2 separate regions of the Homo sapiens genome follow, and region 2 is reported to be linked to region 1. Evidence: microRNA targets listed by miRTarBase, many of them from high-throughput screens and not tested one by one. Region 1 holds a microRNA gene; the other region holds the end of a gene's coding sequence.
The links. The annotated mature microRNA hsa-miR-6765-3p reads UCACCUGGCUGGCCCGCCCAG and lies in region 1 at 1,816-1,836, opposite strand. An mRNA with a match to its seed (bases 2 to 7 or 8) in the 3' UTR can be bound and repressed. Matches are read on the target gene's strand: a 7mer-m8 pairs with bases 2 to 8, a 7mer-A1 pairs with bases 2 to 7 and ends in A, and an 8mer does both.

Region 2: the mRNA of GTPBP3 is a reported target of hsa-miR-6765-3p. Seed matches in the 3' UTR shown: 7mer-A1 at 2,199-2,205.

Annotation. Positions count from the first base shown.
Region 1 is chr14:105,148,963-105,152,474 of GRCh38, forward strand. MIR6765 (microRNA 6765) reads right to left here and starts at 1,902; the gene lies at 1,816-1,902. It overlaps JAG2 (jagged canonical Notch ligand 2), which reads right to left. Exons shown (of 26, transcript NM_002226.5): 6 at 3,199-3,329; 7 at 2,976-3,095; 8 at 2,664-2,777; 9 at 2,321-2,434; 10 at 2,029-2,142; 11 at 1,903-1,949; 12 at 1,642-1,815; 13 at 208-358; 14 at 1-127.
Region 2 is chr19:17,341,230-17,344,229 of GRCh38, reverse strand. It overlaps GTPBP3 (GTP binding protein 3, mitochondrial), which reads right to left. Exons shown (of 9, transcript NM_032620.4): 8 at 2,908-3,000; 9 at 1,499-2,752. The coding sequence ends at 2,527. Among named protein-coding and RNA genes, the nearest start is that of GTPBP3, 5.2 kb to the right of the region's middle.

The DNA.
Region 1 (3,512 bases):
CCACTGTCACAGATGCAGGAAAAGTTGCCCCCTGGCTGGCTGACGCAGCGTCCATGGGGGCCACACACGCCGGAGGCTGCTGTGCCAGGCATCCCAGGCCCCGCGTCTGACCCGCAGCCATCGATCACTATGGCAGGCAGTACAGTCAGGAGTCAGGCCCGCCCCTGCCCCACCACCTCCCCCACCACCCCATGCCGCACCCAGCACCTCTGCAGGCCCCGCCAGGGCACGGCTCGCGGGGCACGGAGCAGTTCTTGCCACCAAAGTCATCAGGGCAGGCGCAGTAATAGTCACCCTCCAGGTTATAGCAGCGAGCGCCGTTCCGGCAGGGGCTTGGCTCACAAAGGTCGACATCCACCTGCAGGGTGGGGGGTGCCTGTGAGAGCCTAGGCCCAGGCCCAGGCCGGGAACACAGGCCAGGCCTCTGTCCATACGAAGGTAGATCCCTGGGGACCCCCAGGCCCCTCCGCCCTGGGCCTAACAGTGCCAGCCAGAGCCCAAGACCCCTGCCCACCTGAGACTGCCCAGGCCTTAGCTGAACGCAGATACCTGTGGGCCCCCACCCCCACCTCCACTGCAGCCCAGCTTCCTCACTGTCCCTCGGGAGGAGTGTGGCCTTGGCCCCTGCTGCTGGCAGGAAGGACAGCTCCTGAGCCCCTCACACACTGCCTGGCCACCCTCAGAGCCAAGACTGTGGGTCTTTTCCAGGGCCAGCCACTGCCATGCTTGCAGGTCCTGAGGTCAGACCCCTGCCCTGGGCCCCAAGAAGCCCTCTGGACAGGAGGCCCATCCTCTGCACCAAGGCCAGGGCAGGATCGTGGGCGGCCGAGGGTGGTAGGGAGGTGGGTGGGGGGAGGCAGGGAAAAAGGGGAAGTAAGGGGAGGGGGTGGTAGGGAGGCAGGTAATGGGGAGGCAGGGTTGGGGGAGGTGGGGAAGGGGGTGGTAGGGAGGTGGGTGGGGGGAGGCAGGGTTGGGGGAGGTGGGGAAGGGGGTGGTAGGGAGGTGGGTGGGGGGAGGCAGGGTTGGGGGAGGTAGGGGAGGGGTGATAGTGAGGTGGGTGGGGGGAGGCAGGGTTGGGGGAGGTGGGGAAGGGGGAGGTGGGGAAGGGGGTGGTAGGGGTGGTGGGGAAGGGGGAAGGCAGGTTACTTTGGAGGCAGGGGGGAAGGGGAGGTTGGGGGAGGGGGTCCAGTACCAACAGATGGTCAGAGGGAGGCGAGAGCATCAGCCCTGAGAGAGATGCCCACTCCGACCCAGGACTCACCTATGACAGGTGTATACCTCTCCACCATCAGGCACCCACCCTACCCCATGTGCTCTGCCCACCAGAGCCCCCTGCCCTCCAGTCCCGAGGGAGTGCACAGATGGACAGATAGGCCTGGGCAGCCAGCAGCCCGGGGGCTCCTAGCCCAGGCCACCAGGAAACCCATCACAACAAGCAATGGCCACAGGGGGCCAAGCCTGGTGACCTGTGACAGCCCCGCCTGCCCACCTGGCACCCAGTGGAGAGCTGAGCCTGGGACGCCTTGGGGACAACTTCCCCTGCAGCACCCCTGGGTCACTCAGGCCCCATGGTCAGGGGACGAGGCCTGCCCTACAGCTCCCAGAGCAGCAGGTGGGGCAGGGTGACCAGGCAGACCTCACCTCACAGAGAGGCCCGGAGAAGCCCTGGGGGCAGTGGCAGTGGAAGCCGTCGGCCAGGTCCTCGCAGAGGCCGCCGCTGTGGCAGGGGCTGCTGGCACACTCGTCTCGTTCCAGCTCGCAATGCCGGCCTCCGAAGCCCCGTGGGCACACACACTGGTACCCGTTCACCAGGTCCTGGGCGGGCCAGCCAGGTGAGCGTCCCGCAGGCACCCTGACGGCCCCGCAGCACCCACGCCACACACCCTCCTGGCCCCGCCTCACCTTGCAGGTGCCCCCATGCTGACACTGCCCGCGACAGTCGTTGACGTCTGGGGGCAGAGGAGCAGGGTCAGAGGCGGGGTCCCATGTGCCTCGGCCCACCCGCCGGCGCCCACCCCCCATACTGACTGATATGGCAGTTGATGCCCTTCCAGCCCGGGATGCAATCACAGTAATAGCCGCCAATCAGGTTTTTGCAAGAAAAAGCGTTAAGGCATGGCTTCCCTTCACACTCATTGGCGTCTGTGAAAGAGACAAGGTGGGAGCCGTGGGGCTCGGGCCCTGCCTGCCCCCTGCAGCACGGGCACCTGGCACCCGCAGCCCAGCAGCCCCAGCAGCCCCAGCAGCCCCCGCAGCCCCAGCAGCCCCCGCAGCCCGCATGCGCGGCCCACGTTCCCATGCACTCGCTCGGAGCCCTTACCCAGCTGGCAGGTGGCCCCCACCCACTGCTCGGGGCAGATGCACTCAAAGCCGTCCACCTGGTCCACACAGGTGCCACCGGCCGCACACGGGTTCGAAGCACACTCATCGATGTCTGCAGAGGGTGGAGAAAGGTGGGGCCCTGGCAGTGTGAGCCGTGGGAATAAGGTCCCCATGGGCAGGTGGCGCTGCAAGCCTGGGTCTTCCTGCCATTTGTCCTCGCCAAGCCAGCCGCAGCCACACGTGTGGACTTGACCACTGCACCCCATCCCCAGCGAGTTGCCCCACTCCCAGACCCCCACTGATACTAGGCAGGAGTCCCCTACTCACGTGCAGACACTCACCAAGGGCACAGGTGGGCCCGCTCCAGCCCGATGGGCAGTGGCATTCGAAGCCGGACGGCACCTCATGGCAAGAGCCCCCGTTGGCACACGGGTTGGAGGTGCAGGCGTGCTCAGCTGTAGAACCGCGGGGAGGGGGCAGAGCTGGCAGCCAGGCCCCCAGCTTTCCACAAGCACTCCTCCCCAAGCCCACAGGTTCCCAAGCTGGGGGTCAGGGGCCCACCACACAGGACGCCAGAGGGATGGGGCCTGACCGGCTCCCCAGGGAACCAGTCCCTGCCTGGCCAGAATTTGGGTGGCCAGCCCCCCACGTACCCTTCTCACAGTTCCTGCCCGAGTAGCCGTCAGGGCAGGTGCAGCGGTACTGGTCAGGCTCGGCGTTGATGCACGTGCCTCCGTTGGTGCAGGGGTGGTGGCTGCCACAGTAGTTCAGGTCTGGGGGCAGGGGTGGGATGCTCAGGGGAAAAGCCGGCCCCCCGCTCCCCCACAACCCACACTTCGATGGCAGAGCATTAGGCCTGCCGCCCCCTACCACTACCTTTGTCACAGAGCAGGCCGCCCCAGTTGGTCTCACAGTTGCACTGCCAGGGCTCCACACAACTGCCATGCACGCAGCCGGGGTAGGGGACACACTCATCGCAGAACCTCCCTTGCCAGCCGTAGCTGCACCTGGGGGAAGGAGGAGGGGCGCAAGACCCAGTGAGCTGTGGTGCCTGAAAGGGTGGCAGGGGAGCCAGGCACAGTCACCCACGCCACACCCAGGGCCGGCGGGCGGCCTCAGGCCTTTGAACTGGAGCAGCCCCAGCCAGGCAGGGGTTGCAGCCCTGCCGGCCAGCCCCACTGTCACGGGCA
Region 2 (3,000 bases), not on the chromosome of region 1:
CACAACATCGTGCTGTGGTGAAGATTCAATAAAATGATGTGTACAATGCTGGATGCAGGAGTTTGATGAATATTCACGGAGTGAGTGAATGAATGAATGAATAAAGATTCAGCTTATAGAGGGAGAAAGACCCCTAGGTTTTGCCAGTCAGATTTTTGTTTGTTTGTTTATTTGTTTTGAGACGGAGTCGGACTCTCCCTCTGTCGCCCAGGCTGGAGTGCAGTGGCACGGTCTCGGCTCACTGCAACCTCTGCTTCCCGGGTTCAAGCAATTCTCCTGACTCAGCCTCCCGATAGCTGGGACTATAGGCGCATGCCACCATGCCCAGCTAATTTTTTGTATTTTTAGTAGAGATGGGGTTTCACCGTGTTAGCCAGGCTGGTCTCGATCTCCTGACCTCGTGATCCGCCCACCTATGGCCTCCCAAAGTGCTGGGATTATCAGCATGAGCCACTGCGCCCGGCCTTGCCAGTCATTTTTAAGATACAAGAGGTTGTCCTGGTGTGGTGGCTCACACCTGTAATCTCAGCAGTTTGGGAGGCTGGGGTGGGAGGATCGCTTGAGTCCACGAGTTCAAGGCCAGCCTGGGCAATATAGGGAGACCCCATCTCTATAAAAAATAAGAAATTAGCCAGACATGGGATATGGTAGTGCAAGGTCAGGGTCTCAAGACTATCCTGGCTAACACGGTGAAACCCTGTCTCTACTAAAAATACAAAAAATTAGCCAGGCATGGTGGCGGGCGCCTGTAGTCCCAGCTATTCAGAGGCTGAGGCAGGAGAATAGCATGAACCCGGGAGGCGGAGCTTGCAGTGAGCCGAGATTGCGCCACTGCACTCCAGGCCGGGCAACAGAGTGAGACTCCATCTAAAAAAAAAAAAAAAAAAAAAAAGGTGGGTGTGGTGGCTCACGCCTGTAACCCCAGCACTTTGGGAGGACAAGACGGGCAGATCTTTTGAGGCCAGGAGCTTGAGACCAGCCTGGGCAACATGACAAATACCCATCTCTACTAAAAATACAAAAGTTAGCCAGGTGTGGTAGGGTACACCTATGATCCCAGCTGCTCGGGAGGCTGAGGCACGAGAATGGCTTGAGCTCAGGAGGCAGAGGCTGCAGTGAGCTGAGATCACACCACTGCACTTCAGTCTGGGCAACAGAGCAAGACTCTGTCACACACACACACACACACACACACACACACACACACACACACACACTTTGGGAGGCCACAGGTGGGCAGATCACAAGGTCAGGAGATCAAGACCAGCCTGGCTAACACAGTGAAACCCCATCAAAAAAAAAAAAAAAAAAAAAGAAGACTAAAGACTAAAAAAGGAATGAGGCCAGGCACCGTGGCTCACACCTGTAATCCCAGCACTTTGGGAGGCCAAGACAGCAGGATGGCTTGAGTCCAAGAGCTCAAGACCAGCCTGGGCAACATAGTGAGACCCCCCATCTCCATAATTCTGTTTTTTTTTTAAAAAGAAATGACAATTTGTAGAGCAATGAACACAATACCATTTATATATGATACACAAGACAAACATATTTGAAAGGTACATCCACAAGTATGCAAACATTCAAAGTTCTGGAAAGACACACATTAAGCCATGACAACCACAGAAGGGCTAAGGAAAATTTCCATGTTGAAACACTTCTGGGGCCAGGTGTGATAGCTCACGCCTGTGATCCCAGCACTTTGGGAGGCCAAGGTAGGCAGATTACCTGAGGTCAAGGAGTTCAAGACCAGCCTGGTCAACATGGTGAAACCTTGTCTCTACTAAAAATACAAAAATTAGCCTGGCGTGGTGGTGTGCGCCTGTAGTCCCAGCTACTCAAGAGGCTGAGGCAGGAGAATCACTTGAACCCGGGAGGTGGAGGTTGCAGTAAGCCGAGGTCGCACCACTGAACTCCAGCCTGGGTGACAGAGCGAGACTCTGTCTCAAAAAAAGAAAAAAATTAGCCGGGCATGCTGGCACATGCCTGTAATCCCAGCTACTCAGGAGGCTGAGGCAGGAGAAGCGCTTGAGCCCCGGAGATGGAGGTTGCAGTGAGCCAAGGTCGCACCACTGCACTCCAGCCTGGGCAATAGACAGAGGAGGGAAGGGTAGGGGAAGGGGAAGGGGAAGGGGAAGGGGAAAGGGAAAGGGAAAAGGAAAGGGAAGGGAAGGGAAGGGAAGAAAATAAACACTTCTAGATCACCTGAGTTTTTTTTACATTCCTTTGGTATTTGCAAAATAAATAAAAAACTACGAAACAAATATACTGAGATCCTCCTATCTCCATCCCAACCCGGATGCCCCAGCATCAAGGGTCGAACGGGACCTCCATTCAGCCCCATTCCAGGGCCTGAATCTCCAGGGAGTCCCTGCAGGGATCTCACTACCTCTCAGCTGTGTTGCTTCACTATTTGAGAATCAAGTTCTTTCCCAGGCGAATGAGAATCCCAATTGGCCTAAACTGTTTCCAGATCCCCCGAGGCTCCTGGGTCTCCACGCAGCTTGGGTGCGACTTCCCTGGATCCCGTCACTTGCCCACACAGAAGTCCTGGAAGATGATGTCCAGGATCTCCTCGGTACCCCCTCCACCTGTGAGCCGGGTCAGGTGACCCCGGGCCACCCGCAGCGCCTCTGCCGCCAGGGCCAGGTCTTTTGACTGCTTGTAGTGGCCGAGGGCATCCAGGCAACCCTGGAGGTGGTGCTGGTGCCTTGCTCGGGTCAGCAGCGGGGGATCTGTGGACGGGTCCCCACACCTGGAAGAGACAAGAGACATGGTCTCTCCCGACCTTTTACAACCATCCCTTGAAGGGGAAATGGTTGTACCCATTTTGTAGGTTCAGAAATTGAAGTTGAGGGACCCACACTTAAACTGTGGGTCAGGGGAGGCTGGGAGTGGGAGGGGGCTCACACTGCAGCTAGCTCCTTCCTCAGCGCCTCCAGGAGGCCGTCCAGCCCCTCTCCCGTCAGACAGGACAGCAGCAGGTGCGGGGGCAGGTCAGGA